2 separate regions of the Homo sapiens genome follow, and region 2 is linked to region 1. The links come from fine-mapping of genetic effects on gene expression. A gene starts in region 1. The other region holds a variant in brackets. All regions are shown on one strand. Distances are between the middles of the regions.

The links. PIP is the estimated chance that this variant, and not a neighbour inherited with it, causes the effect.
Region 2: its variant is fine-mapped to the expression of KIAA0825 in CD4 T cells (BLUEPRINT, PIP 0.95).

What each region holds. Positions count from the first base shown.
Region 1 is chr5:94,614,062-94,624,737 of GRCh38, forward strand. KIAA0825 reads right to left here and starts at 4,543. Exons shown (of 21, transcript NM_001145678.3): 1 at 4,439-4,543. SLF1 (SMC5/6 complex localization factor 1) reads left to right here and starts at 4,608. Exons shown (of 21, transcript NM_032290.4): 1 at 4,608-4,704. RefSeq lists enhancers at 3,557-4,421, 4,160-4,339, 4,650-4,829, 5,220-5,329.
Region 2 is chr5:93,856,264-93,866,939 of GRCh38, forward strand. The region is part of intron 7 of ARB2A (ARB2 cotranscriptional regulator A); the gene reads right to left. Among named protein-coding and RNA genes, the nearest start is that of POU5F2, 120 kb to the left of the region's middle. The variant T/A (reference allele first, on the strand shown) is at 5,062.

The sequences.
Region 1 (10,676 bases):
GAAGTCAGTTTAAAAGTTATAACATATTCATAAAATTGAATAGCATACAGGCCCTAAGTATTATTTTATAGAAGCAAATTTATTGACATGGAAAAATTCATGGTATAGCACATTGAAAAAAGCAGGTCACAAGACAATATAGACAGTATTATTTCATTTTTATTTTAAAAGCACATATATGCAAATCTGTAATACAGAGAAAAATCATAAGTTATTTCTGAGTGGTGGGGTCATGGGCCACTCTTCCTTTCTCTTTCCTTTTTGGCATATTTGTACACTCTAATGTTTCTGTAACAAATGGGCGTTTTTCCATAACAAAGAAAACAAATGCCAACTCCATCCTCCACCCCATCCTAGTTATACACACAGATTATTGCTTATCGTTAAAAGCCTAACATCTCTAACTTGCCCACAGTTATCTACAGCTTGTCCTAAACTCAGCTTTTTACCTCAGCTTTATTACCAGCCTTCATCCATCTTACATAGCCAAAGTGACCTAGGTACTATTTCTGTTTTCTGACACCTTTGCATCTTCCAGTAGAACACTTGTCCCTCTTGTTCCCCTGCCAAAATCCTTTCCATCCTATATGGCACAAACTCAATATTACCTTTTTTATGAGGTCTTTCCTCATCTGCCCTCCTGGAAAAAAAAAAATCTCTTTTCTTTGCATTCCCATGTTTTGTGTTCAATGATGTATGTAAATTGCCCTACATATAATTATTTGTTTATATAACTTTCTCTCTCCTAGTAGACTGTAAGTGAAAATATTCTTCACCTTTGTCTAATTTATAAAGCATTTTTCATATCCACTAATCTTTTATCCTTGCAAGACTGAGCAAGAAAAAGAATCAATATTTATTTATCAGCAATTGTGTATCAGACAACACGTTTGAGGCTTTATAAGTCAACCCACTTAACGCTCACAGCAATCCTATGGATCCATTTTACATATGAAAACATAAGCTCACAAAGGTTCAGTGACTTATTAGTGTCATAGCTGGTAAAAAAAAAAAAAAAAGCATGGCTGTGATTTTTTTAACTCTATTCTTCCTATTGCAAAAACATGATTGTGTGTCCACCAATGTGGAAGACGTGAACACATATAAAAGCTTACATAAAACACATCAAAATTGATGAGGGTTTTCTGGCACTCCAGAACTGCTATATTCAGATAATACTTAGGAGTCAACTAAAGTCAGAGGATTTTTGAGGTAGGAGGGACCTTACAGATAATATAATCCATCAAACTCCTATATGTTATAGATGAGAAACATGATACCCAGAGCTTTTGCACACATTTAGCAGCTGAACCAGGATTAAAAATTCAACTGGAGGCTAGCAAAGTGGTTAAGATTATCGCTTTTGGGATCAGAGCCCTTCATTCAAATCATAGCTGTGTTTAATGACTATGCGTAACCTACGACAATTTACAAAGCTTATCTTTGCCTCAGTTTTAGCATCTGTAAAAGGAGGATAATAATACTTACCCACTGTGCTGTAAGGAGTAATTTAACACTGAATAGCAGAGAATAAACACAGAAAAATATTAGATATTCTCTCATCTCCTGTCTCACAGTCCAGTCTTCTTTGCAGGACAGCACATTGCCTTTTATGAATGAGTGTGGAGTGGACACTGTATTTCAGGGGCAAGGTGAGTAAAAATAAATATTTATTTATGTGGTAAATCCTTTAAAAAATGTACAAATACTTCTCGGTGGATAAATAACATTTTAAAAAGGAATCATTCATTCAATAAATGCTTATTTTTTATTTTTTAGAGACAGGGTCTTACTCTGTTGTGCAGGCTAGAGTGCAGTAGTATGATCATAGTTCACTGTGACCTATGTTTATTTATTAAAGGAAGTATAGAACATAGTAAAAAGAGCCAAAATTTAGAGGATCTGGATTCAAATCCTCTTGCCTTAGCCTCCCAAAGTATTGGGGTTACAGTCATGAGTCATGGTTCCTGACTTATTTATTGAGCTTCTATTACACGCCAGGCACAGTGCTAGATGCTGGGTTTGAGATGACGAACAAAACAGACATAATCCCAAACTTCATAAGCACTGAAATTTGATAGCAAAATATCCCTGAGATCTGCCTACGGGATCTGCCTACAAGTCAATGCAATGTAATCAAATACACATTAGTATTTCAGGCTAGCTATACCTATACAGTTGTAAAACAGGATATTCTTTAGAATTAACTTCTATGTCATTTCTAGTATTGGTCATTTCAACTAAATTTTTGTAAATTCTCTGAAAATTAGGCTATTTCTGTTTCTCTATATAGAATTGGGTATTGGGATGGGCAGGTTTAATAAAGCATATTCCTGAAACTATGTGATAATCCCCATCTGTTTGAGGGTTACGTGAGTGGAACAGCACAGTTTTGCTAATAATTCCTTATAAATCATTACAAAGTTGAATTTTATGAATTTGTGCTCATTTACTCATTCTTTCTCCCTACACACACACACACACATGCACACACAAATATACATGTATACAAATGTGTGTGTGAAAAGCTGTCTAAAGAGATAGTTAGCTGATACTCTGGACTCAGTCACCAATATGCTTGCTGATGGTCTCCAGATCTTCTGCATTTGCCCCAAGTGTTATGCTAATGTACAGTATAGGCATTTGTTTGAATTAGGATAATAAAACTGGCCAAGGATAAAGGCACTAAAGAAACTGCATTATTTAGATGTCAAAATTACCTTATGGTGATGAACACATCCCTTAAGTCCCTTTTATCCTCAAGTTTTGCTATCCACTTGATTTCTAAATGTGACATACTATCTATCCATTTTTACCTGGAGTGAAAATAATGATACTGTTATGTTTACTTATAAAGGTATAGAGCACAGTAAAAAGAGCCAAAATTTAGAGTCAGGTAGACTGGATTCAAATTTTAATTGTGCCATTTAATTGTATAATTTATGGAAAATCACAACCTCTTTGGGTCTCAGTATAAAATGTTTTGCAAAATAGAAATAATACAATTTTTGTGATTTTCTTTTTTTATTAAACATTAAATAAAATAATAAATGTAAAGTGCCTGGCAGACAGTATCTACTTGGGGTAAGTATTAATGATTGGCTACATTCAAGAGCAATTCAAAGAGAGAAATCACTGCCTCTAAAAACTAGTTGCTGTACAGATATAATACATAATATCCCTGAAGTAATTTATAATACTTTCAACTGGAGAAATAAAGAAAAAATACAAGATTCAACAAAATGTCAAGATTGGGATTAATGGGGCGATTATAAGTTTGTTGAATTATTAACCAACAAGGCCAGAAAATCAATGTGCTGTCCTAAATATGGTTTGTTGCATTACTCTCAAAAGGTTAAGAAGACACTGGCCTGGTGTTAACAGGGGCCTTGAATTGAACATATTGCATTTTTCTTTATCGGTATGCTCCGATAAAGAAAATGTTTTTATGGGTATGAGGAGCATACCCATAAAAAAAATGCAATAGTACCTACAACTCTTTCGGGAACTGACTGTTTTGAAAAAATAACAGTCAGCTGCCTTTTACGGGGGTTGGTGGGGAGGTAATTATCTAAATATAAGGTGGCAAGTGAAAACTAGTTACCTAAGAAATTGCATTACTTAAGAGAAGTCGCCAAGGTTCACTACATCACATCTTTCAAATCTTAAATGAGCACCTTTCCTCACATTATCCCTTTGTCGGAAGCAATTTCTCTTTACAACTATTCTGGCTACCTCAGACCTCCATCCAAAATTCTCCTGAATCCTTCATTATCGACAAAGCCTGGAGCAGAACGCAAGCATTCCTTTCTGAAAGCACACATACTTACTGATCACTGCTTTCCAAAAATGCATCTAATGCCCAAGCATGAAATTACAAGCTTGTTCTCTTATGTCTCAGCCATGAAAACAAAGACCGTTCTTCTCATCCAATTCAAATGGCGGGAGGAACCTTCAATTAATTCTAAATCAGGAAGGAACCTCCCCATCTCACTTCCTAAATGTTTGTAAAAGATGTCTTCTTCAGCCAACCTCCTGCCTTCCAGGCACGGCACCCCAGAACTACGGAAACAGTACTCAGGAATCAAGAGTGGCCAAACGCTGCCAATGGGAGATAGGAAACTCGTTGATCATTGGTAGAGAAACTCGGCACAACGCCGAGTCACGGTACACGGTGTCTTCGGCCTCGCCCAGGGACACTTGGTGACCCGAGGTCGAGTTCCAAGTCGGAGACAGATTTTGCGAGTGGATAAGACGGTAAGCCGGGATCCCAGGGCCTTCTCCAGCTGCACTGGGTGTCAAGCGCCACGGGGTTTGATGGGGACTCCTTCTGGTTCCACCCTCGCCCACTCACTTCTCGGGCTGGCCATAATGCTGCACAGAGCCCCGGCCAGCCATTAATATCAGGCGCAGGAGAAAACCCAGTAAAATCACTTACCAGTCTTCCACCTCCGGTGCTGATCTAGCAAGAGCCTGACCCGCTGGCCAGACTCAAGCTCTGCACCAGGTATTACCACCCTGGCGACGGCTCCGGAGCGTCACTGACAACCACCCGGAAATGGTACTATCGCTTCCGGGGCTGCCTAGCGCGCGGCGGGAAATTGTTTCCCAGAGCCCGGATTCGTGAAGCAGTTGAGTGCTGCAGCGGCAGTCGTCGCCCCTGCCGCCGCTGCCACCGAAGGAAGCATCCCAGACACCGGGAAGGTAAAGGGGCTCAGCTAGGAAGACACAGTGTATTCTGTCTCTGTGGGGATGTTTCTTCGCCGGGCGGTACCTCCGAAGTTTCTGCCTCCCGGCTGTGAGGCTAGGAAGGAAGCGGCTGGGGTGAGCGGCAGCGGTGTCTGGCTCTCGCGCTTTCTCCAGCTGCAGTTCGTTCCAGCTCTCCCGACTTCGCGCTCGGCGCCGGAGTTGGTGGGCTGCAGCTGCAGACCCCGCGACGCTTCGCCCGTGCCGCTGCGGGGACTGCCACCGAGCGCCCCTCTGCAGTACTGGGCTGAGCCACTTCCCCCGCTTCTGCTTGCGCAGCTCTGCCGCTCGGCCCGCCGCCTGGAAGGCGCTAGGCCCCCCGCGTCTCTCGTTTCCATAGAACCCATGGGGACGCCTCATCCTGATACCAGAATTTTGGCTGCTTTCCATAACTTAGCGTCTGCGAAGGTGGCTGGGATACCCCAGGCCCACTTTCCTGTGACGAAGAAAATTGTGTCATTCTTTCCTCTCTAGTAGAATTTTTTTTTTTTAAACTGCTAAAACGGCAGTGATCCTATCTCTGACTGCTATAGGCCTTTAAACACAAACATACACACATACACTTTTCGCTGAAGGGAGGGTCTGTGTTCCTGGGGTTTATATTTCAGCTGCCTGAAGGCTGGAAACAAGACTGAGTGGCTATTTTAAGATTTCTTCCACTTCCAAAGCCTCAGATTAAATATTGACAAAAAAAAAATTGGTCCGTCTCGGGTACTTCATATCATTATTTGACTCAGGAGTTAGATGGAGCTTGATTTTGGAGGCGCCAGCCTCTTTTTTGACGAATGACTTTATTAAAAAATTTTGTTGTTGTTGTTGAAATATTGGGAATGAACATTTGAACTGAATTTACAATGTATGTGTGACAGACAATGCACCTTGTGGACTTTTTGGTTTATGTTATTCCGTTGTGCCTCAATTCTTGGAAATACCTGTGGATGTGCAAGATGTTCTCATTATTGGAAAGTTTGATTACGTATATTGCAGGTGTTCAATACCTAAGTTGCTAGTATGAGGTGAATTTATATTAAAGAGTATATTTCTTTATTTTCTTTTCTTACCTTTCCTTCCTTCCTTTGCTTTCTTTCTTTCTTTGACAGAGCCTTGCTCTGTTGCCCAGGCTGGAGTGCAGTGCCTATCGGCTCACTGCAACCTCCGGCTCCCAGGTTCAAGCAATTCTCCTATCTCAGCCTCCCGAGTAGCTGGGATTACAGGTGCGCGACACCACGCCCGACTAATGTTTTGTATTTTTAATAGAGACAGGGTTTCACCATGCTGTCCAGGCTGGTCTCGAACTCCTGATCTCAAGTGTTCCGCTCGCCTCGGCCTCCCAAAGTGCTGGGATTACAGGCGTGAGCCACCGGGTAACTCTTGAGTATTCTTAATTTAAAGGAACTAGGATGTTCAAATACTTGAATGTTTAAGTCAATTTTATTGTAAAGACAGCGAACCTTCAGTACTGCAAATAAACCCCTATTCTGTTTTCTAAATCCAGATTTTATTATGCGTTATTAAGTAAAATTGAATTATATAACCTAACATTTTCTTGCTTCCCTAAAGCATAAAGCGTGGATCACGTGAAAGTCATTGAAAAGATGATCAAATGTGGTTACTTTTCATAATCAAAATTCAGAACTGAAGATTTCGTAATAAGCATCCACATTTTCCACTGATGTTCAAAAACATTGCGTTTTGGGAAACCAATAGTATAGCTTTTATTTATTAGTACTTTCCTTATTATATGTATCTTGATTATATTACCCTAAAGTAGGGTTTTCACCATTTAAATAAAACTTTTTTAGAAAGTAAAATAAAAAATTCTGTGTTGGCTTTGAATAATAAACCCTAAACAAAACGAATTCTCTCAAGAATGTAACTAAAATGAGACATCATCTGTTACTCTTGTAGTTGACTCTTTGAATATACTAATAGAAAATATATCTGTATAATGTACTATGTACTGTTTTTCACCTTATAAGGGCATGTTACTGCTTAAAAGTAAAATAACCCTGGAACTTTTAAGTTCACTTAATTCATACTTTCTATCAAAATTACTTTGAAATTTAAAATACACTGTCTGGTTATTTTTGAGGAGGAAGAAAGACTTTCTCATATGAATCACTCTAATGATTGATACCAAATCACTTTTGAGAGGAAAATAATGAAAACTTTGTTTCTCATTAGACAAAAAGAGCACTCTTTAGATTGTTTCTAGAAATGCTTTGAAATTTTAGGCACTGTTATTTTACTGAAAATAATTTATAATTATGTTTAAATTTTTTCAGTGATATTGCTGTTCTAAATGTCTTCCCACCCTTGTACTGTTCTTTCACTTAATGTATCTTTCTTTTGTGTTAGCTGAAAGTAGATTGCTTTATGAAATTATAATGTGGTTAAAAGTATTAGACTAAGTTCTGCAATTTAATTCACCTTGGTATTGTAGAAAAGGCATACAGTTTTTGCAGAAAGACTTATATGTGCATCTTGTTTTTACCATTTACTAGCTGTGTACCCTTGAAGTAGTTTCTTAATCACTCCGATTTCCCAGTATCCTCATCTGCACAAGAAAAATAAATAGCACTTATGTTGTGAAGAAGGAAATGAGCTAACATATATACTGTGGTATAAACCACAGTAGGTCCTCCATAAAAATTAAATCCTGCTTGTTCAACCTTAGACGTATGGTCTTCCTTCTAAGTAAACCAAATTTCCTAGGATACCAAAGCACATTTGACTTCTATGGCTAACCGATATCTACTGTCCACCTATTCTTTTTCTGAACCTTTCCTCTCTTGACCAACTTGCTTCCTTAAGGACTCCTTCATCCCGAAATTAACATCTGCCCAGCCTGTGCCTTGTACAGTACTGGATAGATTGGACATCTCCGTATGTCCTCCTAAGCTTCTCATTTTTTTCTCACCATATTCACTTTGGGGCTTGTTCTGTTTCTTCCTTCTAGCGCTAAATTTGTCATCAGAGGGACTAATTACTGCTTCTTTCCCAAATAATGCTATGGAAGTAAGAACAGCCCTCAAGTCTCATCACTGGATGCTTCTGTCAAATAATTAATATTTATACACACACACACACACACACACATACACACGTGCGTGTGCATCTCTCCTATCTTTGAAGGATGGGGCAGGAAATAGACACTGTGTCTTTAAAAAAAAAAGTCTGAAGGCCAGCTGAATGATATTAAACCAAGGGCCTAATTTGGCTCCTAGGCCTAAAGGGGCCAGAATTTCTAAACGCCACTTGTAGTTAAACGTCAAACAGTATTTTATACACACAGTATAAGTACTGTGACATGTGTCTACCTTTTGCAATATTGGTTCAAACAGAGATCCAACACTTGGACCCTTTTCAGTTTTAACAGTTATTTGTTTACTTTCCCAGTTAAATGTTTTGAATAAGAGAAATGAAAATTTTTCAGACTGTTTAATTCAGAGCAGAAATCTTGACTGCATTCAGTGCTTGGTATATGCTTTTCAGATGAGGGGAGTTTCAAATAATTTTCCTTAGTTTGCTGTAAAAGTAGGTTTAAAATCAAAAGAATTCACCAAAATAACAAACACTGAGAAACCACTAGTTTTCATCATGACCTTAAAACCATGAAGAGTATTAAGTGGCATGGAAAAATGATCACAATATAACATTACATAAAAATGAAGATATGAAACAATGTAATATCCAAATTTTGTTATATATATTTTTTACACTCAGATAAAACCTAAAAGTCAACATCCCTCCCCAGTGTTAACAATGGTATTACAGGCTGAAGGGATTAGAGATGATTTTAATCTTTCTATATACTTTGTAATATTTTTCAAATTTTCTATAATAAGTGCATGTTAAAATTGAAAGACAAGTCTGTAAAGGTTATTTTGGGGGGAAAACTTTAGTTCTTAAATATAAATATATAAATCAAAGTTTTTTTATTAAGTCTTAAATATTTATTTTAGCTAATGATACCATACAATTTATTTCTAAGATTACTTCTCTTTTATGGGTAGGGCTGGTTATAAAAGAAACCAGCCCTATATAATGTAGAGTAGGGAAAAGTTTATCCTTATTTTCCTTACAAAACCCCATTTATGCATCCCTGTCTCTCATTTTTGTAGCACCTTCCGCTTTTTCCCAAGGGTTGTACCCTGCTCTTTCATCTTGCCTCTCAAACCAGACTTTTGTATTCATATCTGTATTCCTGTCTTTCCTTGTCTCTGAGCTCAATTTTCAACATGTTCTTCAAACATGTTCTAGCTATGTGTTACATTATAAAGAATTCAAAGAACCTAAAAAGCTAGTTTATAATAAATAGTGTTCTTAATTAAGATGAAGAGTTCTATAAGTTTTCTTTGCATTTTGGACTGGCACCAACTACAAAGGAATTTCAGGCATCAAGAATAGGCCCATGTGGGAGATATTTTGGGAAACTCCATACCACAGAGACAGTTGCTTGCTATGCATAAAGGCCAACTCTGTTTATAGTCATTGTCTCCTTAGTTGTATTTTATTGTTCAAGGTAAGTAACTAATTTTTGTTAATTATAGATAAGATTTTAATAATTACTACAAAAGGACATTTTCTCATAACCAAGAATGTCATATAATTTTAATTTTTTTGACAGTAAAAATAAAACTTAACTGTCAGAAGTCATGCTCTCTTTTTTGCTTTTTTTTTCCCTCCTTTTTTTTGGTGTTAAGATAGTATCTTCTGTATGAATGCTCCAAGGAACACCCCCTATTAGTTCTAGAAAGATCTATAATTTTTCTAAAAATAACCACTGGTACAATTATATTATGGTATATTTACTTTCCTTCTTGTGCTGCAAGACTTCTAGAAGTTAGCTCTTGATCCTCCCTACCTCAGACATATCACTTACACTAAACTTGACTGTACTTTAAAGGATTTTTAATTGTCTGGGTTATTGATATATGTTAAACCAATTATAGTGCTCTTTTTGGCCTCATTAACATATCAGGTTTATTGTATTCTTAATCCTGCAGGGTCAGAAAGAACCATCAAACCATGAATTTTATAAATAAATCAATCAGTATATCTATACATGTTTATATCTATTCCTACATATATAGTTTTCCTGTGTAACTGCATGAATTAGATCCTGTAATACAGGTCATTCACTTGTCATATCATGTGCTGTAAAAAAGCATTGCTAAATGTATTATAAACTGTTGTTTCAAGTAGATAATTTTATTCTAGAAAACTGTTACAAAACTGTGCTAGTTATTTTGGGCCGTCACTGGGATTCCTGATTCTGTTAAAGTTTAGCTAGTAGCTCAGTTTTTCTGATAAATTTGTGACTAGAATGTCCTGTATTCTGATTTGTCTTTAAACATATCCATATTTTATGGATAATGTTTGAATCAGGACATTCTGTTTTTTCACCTTTGTTTCCTACTTCCCTTTCCTCCGCATGTTTAACTTCAGTTTCATATTTAATCATTTTCAAAGGAAATAAATTGCTTTAAAAGGCTTTCCTGATTTCTGCTATTATGCAGTTAGTCCTATTTTCATTTTACTATGGGCTCTTGCTTTGACAGAAAATGCTGTTAAATATACAAAGTGGGTCATTTCCATCATATTTATTTTATTATAAAGACCATATGGTTTAAGATGAAAACTGCTTTACACACTAACTCCAGTAAATCCAAATAATTTAATAATTTATACATGAAACCAAAATACATTAAAATGTTACCTTATTAATAATCAAATTGTAAAATAGCTATTAACATGATCTGGAAACAGCAACATAGTATATGTTTATTTCTGTATAACTTGTTTAATTCTGAGGAAGCAGAATAATAAAATTTAAAGGACAAGCTTTAAATGAAACTTTTGGGTAACAGTGTTATAACAATTTTTTTATTATTTTTTGTATATTCCGATTATTTAACATTAGTTTT
Region 2 (10,676 bases), 760 kb before region 1:
AGTTGCTCTTCTCGAGGAGTATCTTTGGGGTGTTCTCTGTATTTCCTGAATCTGAATGTTGGCCTGCCTTGCTAGATTGGGGAAGTTCTCCTGGATAATATCCTGCAGAGTGTTTTCCAACTGGGTTCCATTCTCCCCGTCAGTTTCAGGTACACCAATCAGACGTAGATTTGGTCTTTTCACATAGTCCCATATTTCTTGGAGGCTTTGTTCGTTTCTTTTTATTCTTTTTTCTCTAAACTTCCCTTCTCGCTTCATTTCATTCATTTCATCTTCCATCACTGATAGCCTTTCTTCCAGTTGATCGCATCAGCTCCTGAGGTTTCTGCATTCTTCATGTAGTTCTCGAGCCTTGGCTTTCAGCTCCATCAGCTCCTTTAAGCACTTCTCTGTATTGGTTATTCTAGTTATACATTCAGCTAAATTTTTTTCAAAGTTTTTAACTTCTTTGTCTTTGGTTTGAATTTCCTCCTGTAGCTCGTAGTAGTTTGATCATCTGAAGCCTTCTTCTCTCAACTCATCAAAGTCATTCTCTGTCCAGCTTTGTTCCGTTACTGGTGAGGAACTGCGTTCCTTTGAAGGAGGAGAGGTGCTCTGCTTTTTAGAGTTTCCAGTTTTTCTGCTCTGTTTTTTCCCCATCTTTGTGGTTTTATCTACTTTTGGTCTTTGATGATGGTGATGTACAGATGGGTTCTTGGTGTGCATGTCCTTTCTGTTTGTTAGTTTTCCTTCTAACAGACAGGACCCTCAGCTGCAGGTCTGTTGGAGTTTGCTAGAGGTCCACTCCAGACCCTATTTGCCTGGGTATCAGCAGCGCTGGCTGCAGAACAGCGGATTTTCACGAACCGCGAATGCTGCTGTCTGATCGTTCCTCTGGAAGATTTGTCTCAGAGGAGTACCCGGCTGTGTGAGGTGTCAGTCTGCCCCTACTGGGTGGTGCCTCCCAGTTAGGCTGCTCGGGGGTCAGGAGTCAGGGACCCACTTGAGGAGGCAGTCTGCCCATTCTCAGATCTCAAGTTGCGTGCTGGGAGAACCACTGCTCTCTTCAAAGCTGTCAGACGGGGACATTTAAGTCTGCAGAGGTTACTGCTGTCTTTTTGTTTGTCTGTGCCCTGCCCCCAGAGATGGAGCCTACAGAGGCAGGCAGGCCTCCTTGTGCTGTGGTGGGCTCCACCCAGTTCGAGCTTCCCGACTGTTTTGTTTACCTAAGCAAGCCTGGGCAATGGTGGGCGCCCCTCCCCGAGCCTCGCTGTCACTTTCCAGTTTGATCTCAGACTGCTGGGCTAGAAATCAGCGAGACTCCATGGGCGTAGGACCCTCCGAGCCATGTGCGGGATATAATCTCCTGGTGCGCCGTATTTTAAGCCCGTCGGAAAAGTGCAGTATTAGGGTGGGAGTGACCCGATTTTCCAGGTGCCATCTCTCACCCCTTTCTTTGACTAGGAAAGGGAACTCCCTGACCCCTTGCGCTTCCCGAGTGAGGCAATGCCTCGTCCTGCTTCAGTTCACGCATGGTGCGCTGCACCCACTGTCCTGCGCCCACGGTCTGGCACTCCCTAGTGAGATGAACCCGGTACCTCAGATGGAAATGCAGAAATCACCTGTCTTCTGCGTCGCTCATGCTGGGAGCTGTAGACTGGAGCTGTTCCTATTCGGCCATCTTGGCTGCCCCCACATTACATGTATTTTATAAATCTTTAAAGTGACTTCACATACCTCACTTCTTATTTTCTTTAGTCATACTAATGGCTATGATTTATTACTGCAAAACATCCAAAGCTAAATCAGCAAAGAGAAAAGGCACATAAGGCAAAATCCAGAGGAAACAAGGTACAAACTTCCAAGAATCGTCTCCTGGTAGAGTCACACAAGATGTGCGTAATTGCTCCAGCAACAAATTATGACAACACATGTGAAAAGTTGTGTACCAGGGAAGCTCATTAGAGATTCAGAACCCAGGGTTCTTACTGGAGGCTTGTCACATAGCCACTTCCTACCTAGCACCTTACCAAGAATCCAGACTTCCAGAAGGAAAGCAAGTGTTCAGCAAAGACCACATTGTTTGCACAATCATTTTGGGCCCAATGAGCCATTCTTTGTCAGTTAGGGTTCCAGAAACCTTCCTGAAATCCAAATTCCCAGATGATAATCAAAGGCCAGCTTTGCAGGCAGGCTTTTCTAAGGATAGCCATCTCAGGCCTGCTCACCTCACTTCTTAATTGTCATTACAATCCAATGGAGTAGAGAGGTCCTGGGAGACCACTTATATTCCTCCATCTCCTTTAGCCTTTATCTAATCAATTGGCATATCCTGCCATTCGCCATCTTAACACTGTACTTCTAAACTGACACTCTTAACTACTTCTAGAGCCCATCATCTATTTCAATGGCCTAGGAAGTAAAATTAAGCATATATGCCTGAAGTGACAGCATAAAAAGATTGGCAGTGAGAGGTGAAATATTAAAATGACAAATAATTGTTATGGTTATTTACCTGCTTGCAAATGTAAAAGAATTCTTCTAGAAAAAGAAACACTATAATGTAAAAATGATCATCTTTATAATGTAACATTTTGTTAATATAGACAGAAATTAGGGGAAAGAAGAGGAAAAAGAGGAGAGAGGGAAAAGACTTGTTGGTAGTGGCAGTATAATAGAGCTAAAATTCTAACTTCAAATTAGTGAGTGAGGAAGGAAGAGGATAGAAGATTAAAATGAGACACTTCCAAATACTGCAGGTTCTATAAAATCTCAATAATTATATAAGAATAGCACTGGCACATGTAGATAGACATTTGAAAGGAATAGAACAAAACCCAGGAATAAAGGCAAGAATGTAAGAATTCAATCTGTGTTAAAGGTGGCACTTCAAATCAGTGAAAAAAGAATGTATTATTTTAAAAATGCTATTAGGAAAACTGATTAACCATTTTGAAAAAAATTAATGATGCCTATCCACAAAATAAGCATAAAAACAAATTTCTAGTGGTTAAAACACATATTATTGAAGAAGGATGATCTCTCAAATAAATAGGGTCAGGATAATTATCAATACGGGAAAAAAGGAAATTGGATTCATACCTAACTCCAAACGTAAAAGTTAACTCTAGACAGAATATAAACCTAAATGTGAAAGGAAAAACTCTAAGGCACATGAAAAAAAAAGGAGAATATATTTGTATCACCTAGGCTAGGTAAGGACTTTTTAAATAATATGTTAAAGGATAAACCATATAAAAAAAGATATATTTTCCTATACTAAAATTAAGAATGTTTTAAAATATTTTTAAAAAGACAAGCCAAAGAGTGGAAGAGTGACTTGCAATATGTAAATAACACCTACAAGTCAGTAAAAAAAGATTTTTTCAAAATAACAAAATGAGCATACACATAAATAGGCAATTCACAGATGAGGAATCATAGATGGCCAATGAAAAACGAAAACATATACAACCTAACTAGTAATAAGGAAAATGCTAACTAAAACCACAATATGATACCATATTATAGTATCCAGGCTAGCAAATATTAAACAGTAACGATAACACAAAGATTTGAGAAGGGTGTGAAACAACAGGAATAGCCATGTATGGGTGATCAGAATAAATCATACAACTACTTTGGGAAACAATTTGATATTACCCAGTAAAGCTGACCCAACAATTCTACTAATAAGTATAGATTCTAGAGCACCAGGAGGCATCTGAAGCCCAGGAGGCATGCCTAAGAATGTTCATTAGAATCTTATAGGCCAGGCGCAGTGGCTCACACCTATAATCCCAGCACTTGGGGAGGCTGAGGTGGATGGATCACGAGGTCAGGAGTTTGAGCCCAGCCTGACCAAGATGGTGAAACCCCGTCTCTACTAAAAATACAAAAATTAGCCGGGTGTTGTGGCACACACCTGTAATCCCAGCTACTCAGGAGGCTGAGGCAGGAGAATCACATGAACCCAGGAGGCGGAGCTTGCAGTGAGCCAAGATCGTGCCACTGCACTCCAGCCTGGGCAGCAGAGGGAGACTTCATCTCAAAAAAAATAAAGAATCTTATACTATAATAGCAAAAACATTAGAAAGCAAACCAACAATGTTCATCCACAGTAAAGTGGATAAATGCCATATAGAGGTAAAAATGAATTACTGCTAAACATATAAATGGATGTCGTACACAAAAAAGCAAATTCCAGAAGTAAAAAAAAAATGATAAAAGTAAAGGCAAGCAAAACCAAACAATATAATAAACATGTTATTTAGAAAAATATGCATATTTAGTAAACTATAATGAAAAGGAAAAGAACATTAAGACAAAATTCATACCTCTGAAAGACAGGGAGAAGGATGTGAACACATGTCAATTTTCTATGGTAGTGGTAAGATTGTTTCTTTCTTTTTTTTTTTCTTTTTTTGTTTGAGACAGAGTCTCTCTCTGCCACCCAGGCTGGAGCGCAGTGGCACGATCTCGGCTCACTGCAACCTCTGCCTCCCAGGTTCAAGCAATTCTCCTGCCTCGGCCTCCTGAGTAGCTGGGACTATAGGCGCCTGCCACCATGCCCGGCTAATTTTTTGTATTTTTAGTAGAGATGAGGTGTTAGCCAGGATGGTCTCGATCTTCCGACCTCATGATCCGCCTGCCTCGGCCTCCCAAAGTGCTAGGATTACAGGCGTGAGCCACCGTGCCTGGCCCACTTCTGTTTTCTTAGTTGCAAAGTGTGAACCTGATTAACTAGAGAAGGACTTTGTAATGCTTATGCTAAAATGAACACAATAAATAGCTGAACTCCAGTTTTGGTTTCAAGATGTATAAGCAACTAAGCAAAAATCACTATATCTGTTTTGAAAACCAACATATTCTTTTAAGTATTTCTTTTTTTGTAAAGGAATAATTTTATTTCTAATGTTAAACTTTCTAGTCAAACCATCTTCTCCTGAACCCAAACATGCATACTATTTCTTGCTTCTTTGTCTTTGCTTATATAATTTCTTCTGTTCTGAATACCCTTCTACACCCGGTTCCATTTATTCCCTTTAACTTCTACTCTTTTTTTCTTTTTTTTTTTTTTTT[T/A]TTTAGCTCTGCTAACTTATTTGAGATACATTTCAGGCATCACTTCCTCCACGAAACTTGCCCTGGATTTTCCACTTCACCCCCTAACTGGATTATGTACCACTTCTGCCCCCACTCCAGGTACGATGTGGAATCTAGCATAGTCCTTTATCATTGTTATCACTGAGTTGCTATGGGTAGGGTCATGTGTTCTTTGATTTTCACATCCCACGTGCCTAGCACAGTGCTGTTCAATAACTATTTGATGAAATGTTTAAGAATTTATTGGTTGAAGGTACTTTTTCTTTAACGTCTCTGAAAAAAAAATCACTTGGTTAGCAATCTTAGAACTGAACCATAAACTTTATTATAGATGGTTGGAGCTTGATACATACAGTTTTTGGCTGCAAAATATAAGTTACACTAACATGCTCAGAGGCCATCGTTAAGCATCAACGCTATATTTAGTCACATACATGATCTCACCTGCTTTGTTCTTCCCATATTCCCAGTCAAAATCCAGCCACATTTAAGTCTATTTAGTTTACTGATATACATTAGGCCATACAAAACAAAATGATGGATAGTATCCGTATCACTGGATTTATAATATAAAGTTTTTCTCATTTAGAAAGAGGCATACTCTTTTGATCATGTATATTCTATTTAGAAGTAATAGAGAACTTGGAACTAATGTATATTAGAACATTTGAATAAAGACAGGTAAAAATAAACAAATCTTTGCCAATATTCTTAATCTTAAAATTAAATGTTATGATTTATTACTTCCTTGATTTTAAAATTTATTACATAGTGAAATATATTCAATGGTATTTATGACAGAGTATATTTACAAATAGAAAATTCATTCAAATTTAATGATGCTTCAAGTACTGGAGCTACTATCTACACATTTCTTGTTAATAAGTACATACATTATATCAGTGTTACTGAAGTAGTAACAGCATTTCCACATCACAATAGCAGCAAAAATAAGTTCCCCTGAAAGTCTTAACCAGGTTTACCTGGACAATCTGTGCAATATACTACAATCTGAACTTACTTCTGTAAACAGAAAAATGAACCAGAGATTCCAGTATGAATCAAATAATTCCATCAAAGAAAACCTTGCTAAACAGACTTTTATTCAAGCCCTGAAAACATAGATGCATTAAATATAAGCCTTTCTTTTAAATAATTAGATATCTACTTTGGGGAATAAATATATAAGCTTTCAATTATTTCTTTAATGTGGGAAAATGCTAAAAATTATGTTATATACATGCTGGCAAAAGGGAGGCTGTGATTACTAGTGTGTGTGTGTGTTTGTGTATGTGTGTGTGTGTTCCCATGCACATGCATGTCTTTGTACAGGCACGGGAAGAGAGAGAGTCAAGAAAAGTTTTAACAAAGGAGGGGACATTAAGGTTAGGTATTAGATATAAGACAAGAACTTTCTAGATGATGTTTAGAATTTAACAGAATCTTGAAAAATCTCTGATAATACTGATGCTTCTTTATAATGTTCAACCTTTAAGTGTTTGAGTATTATGAAAGAAATATTTCCTTCCAAATGTCTTAAAAAACCATTATAAATTAAATGGGTAATTTTTCTGTGCTAATTTTTAGAATTATATTAACATATTAATTTAGAGAAACTGCTTGTTTTTGTTTGTTTGTTTTCCTAGAAGTAAGGGCCTGGAGAGATGAATCCAGAATATCCACTTCCAACCACCTACCTTTGACCAGTGAGAGAAGAGATGCCCCTTGCCTCGTGGGCTCTAGCTCTGGGCAAGTGGCATCTTGAGCAGGTACTGAACAAAGGACAGACAGACCATCCATGTTATATAGGGCAAGCAGAATCTGGGTATGAAGCCAAAGGAAACCCAGCAAGGACAAAAACTCCTCAGAAATAGGATGGAAATAGAGCCTGGCATAGCTGGTTGGATTTGATGGGGTCATTTCAGTGCCTTTTTTTTTAAAAGATGGAGTCTCATTCTGTCGCTCAGGCTGGAGTGCAGTGAGATAGTTTACTGTAGCCTCAAATTCCTGGGCCATCTTTCCACCTCAGCCTCCCGAGTAGCTGGGGCTACCGGCACATTACCATGCCCAACTAATTATCTATATATATATATTTATATATATTTAGAGAGGAGGGTATTGCTATTTTGCCCAGGCTGTTCTTGAGCTCCTGGCTTCAAGTGATCCTCCGGCCTCAGTCTTCTGAGTAGGTGGGATTACATGTGTGAGCCACTGCACCTGTCTGAGTGGCTTTTTTTATAGCATTACTCTAGCATCCTGAGTGTCCCCTGAACTACAGTGGAGAGAAGATTCACATTAAGGCTTTTTAAATATGGCATGTTTTATTACTAATCTTTCAAAAATGTTGAAATATCTTAGGTTAACAAGCAACTATTTGTTGCATAATTTTAGCTCAATGGTTGCTATTGCTATTCAAACTATTGACATAATTTAATATCACTTAAAATTATCCATTGAAAGAAATATGACACATATCTTCATAAATATATTTTTAAATATTTTCTTTAAAATTTTAAAATTTTTTGTTTTAGTTTTTTAGAGTCTTAAAAAAGTATTTATTTTCTCTAGTCACTAGATTCCACTGTATTGGTTTGCCCATAAGAATATCAGCTTGCCATATTTGTCAAAACAAAAAATGTATCGATCACCCTGTCATTTAACTAATATTTGGTGTACCCACTATGTGCCAGACACTGTAAGAGGATCTACCTAACAAATGTCAATAGTATCACAAGCAATTAAGAAAATGTAAAAAATCTAAACAGAAATAATGGTTTTTAATGAAAACTGCTAATCATTAACTTCATATTATATTTCCTAAAAGATAAAATGTAGGTGAAAATGTTTAATGAACTGTAAAACCTTATTAAAAGGTTAAGTGCAATTATTAATTATTACATTATTTCTCCTAAACAATGAGTGTTGTAAAATGAATATACCACAATGAATATATCATTTGGTGGAGGAGGTGAAAGCAAAAGAAGAAAATAATTAGTTAAGGGATATTAAATGGTTGTGACAGGTTTTAAATGCTCCTTATATGTTTGATTAGCTTCATTTGAACTAAAAGTAAAGGCAAAACAATTTTAAGTATCATTGATAAATACCACCACATTACTGGAAATTGAAGTATTTCAGTTTTCAGAATGTGTTAAAAACATCCAACAAACTAATTCCTTTTAAGTGCCAAATTTTGAAATGGTTTATATTATTCAACAAAACAATCATGCTACATAACCTTATGTAAAAAAATTCTTATAGAAACAATTTGCACAAAAATTGAGGTTCTCATTGCAATGATAAGTTGTATTTAGTACAGAAAATGTATATAGTCTCAAATTTTAAAATTCAATGTGGTTTATAACAATCTCTAAGTATTGAACTTTTATTACTAATGATATATCACTAGTTGTGAAGGACTTTCAATTTCCCATTGAAAAATAAAATTTTCCTAAAATCCTATAACATATGAATGATGTCAAAGTACATACTGTAATCTGCCTAATATTAGAGTTGCTTATGAATATCGTAGCCTCCCTGTTATATACTGTGAGCTCCTGGTAAAGAGGGATTCTGGCTTTTCTATCTCTATTTCTTACAGAGGGCCAGCACAATATTTTATAAATAGTACTCAGCTATTGAAATGAAATGTGAAGAGATCTGTTCCAACATGTGCTACTAAACAGGATACACATCTTCAGTTTCAAGACACATTTGATATCTTGATGTATCATCCTGGCTAATTTCTTTTTTTTTGAGACGGAGTCTCTCTGTCGCCCAGGCTGGAGTGCAGTGGCGCGATCTCGGCTCACTGCAAGCTCTGCGTCCCGGGTTCTCGCCATTCTCCTGCCTCAGCCTCCTGAGTAGCTGAGCCTACAGGTGCCTGCCACCATGCCTGGCTAATTTTTTGTATTTTTAATAGAGATGGGGTTTCACCTTGTTAGCCAGAACGGTCTCGATCTCCTGACCTTGTGATCCGCCCGCCTCGGCCTCCCAAAGTGCTGGGATTACAGCATGAGCCACCGCGCCCAGCCGATCCTGGATAATTTCATGTGAGTAGAAATTACATGCTTTATTCTTCTCCTTTTATCTTTAATATCTAGCACTTGTGACATGGTACATAATCGATGAAGGTATACTAAGACAATGTAACCTATAACTGGCATTGTACTTTTATCACACTACTAGTTATTTCAGGTATCTTGAAAGTACTAAAAGAAGTTTTAAAAGCAAAAAGCATACGGAAACAATTAGGACACTTGGGGCTAACATCTTTATTTAATCTGGCCATTTACTTCCTAGCTTTATCATCTATATTTATCATCTAAAGATCTACCTCTTCTTAATAATATGACATCCAGTACTGAAAGAATTCAAACCTGTTCTCAGTCTGCTTTGGGAAATAAAGGAACAAAACTGACTATAATGATGCATAAATAAGTAAATCAACATTTATGGAGGAGTCACTACTTGCCGAATAGTAGGCAGGTGATATTTATACAATTTGTGAGGTCAAATATGAGGTTAAAAGGTAGGAAAAACAATGAATGTCCACCTTATCGCTATGAGGGCTGCCCCATAAGGGCACTCAGTGTATACACAGCACAACTCCAGGGGTTGCTAGTAAGAATTATGTCCCCTTAAGAGTTATGCAACTAAAAGTATAATTAAGAGAAAAAACGTTGCTAAATAATCTATAATATGCTATTAATTCTTAAGATGCATCCCAAATTCAGAGATGTTAAAATGTGATAAAAGGTTTTAGGACCAATGAAAAAAGAGGATAATACAAGCAATCTTCAATTGGCCTTTCTTTGATGGCATCATTTTATCAGCAGTCTGTACAAGAATTTCTGAGGGAATTTTTTCACTCTCCTCTGTGAAGTCAAAATAAAGAACATTAGAAGTGAATGAAGTACCGTTAATGTCACAATTCAGATATAATGCACCAAGATTTTCAAATTTATATTCTTCCCCTTAGTTCTTAAAATTGATTATGGGAGGAACAGTGTTTTCAACTAACTTTTAGGTGCAAGCCTAAATTACTTATTGGGCACTTATACCTTTCCCTGCCTAATAAACATACACATATACACCCACACACACACAGAAACCCACATACACGCAGCTGCTGAGGAAAAGGCCAGAAGAGAGGCCACTTCAGAATATGAATGGAGAGAAAAAAACAGAGGGATGAACTGTGTGGGTCCAGTTATGAGAATTTTTTTCAACCAAAGCCAGATTGAAAAGTAGGCCATCTGTATATGCCGGTTTTGTATATGCAGGTTTTGCATATACAGACGGCCTACTTTACATATCCATGGTTCCACAGGACCAACTGTAAGACTTCCATATGCATGGACTGTGGTATATGCAGGGGTTCTGGAATCAGTTCCCTTCGTAAAGCAAGGGATGACTGTGTGTAATTTCTCTTAATCTCAGTTTCCTTATCTACATCTACAAATGAAATAGATGGGCTTTAAAAGTCTAAAAAATATCTACTAAGTTTTAGATATTATCTTTTGGAAACCTATTCTGGTAGAATCCTTCTATTAAAAATGTTCTTTCTTCCTAAACATATTCTTTATATAAAA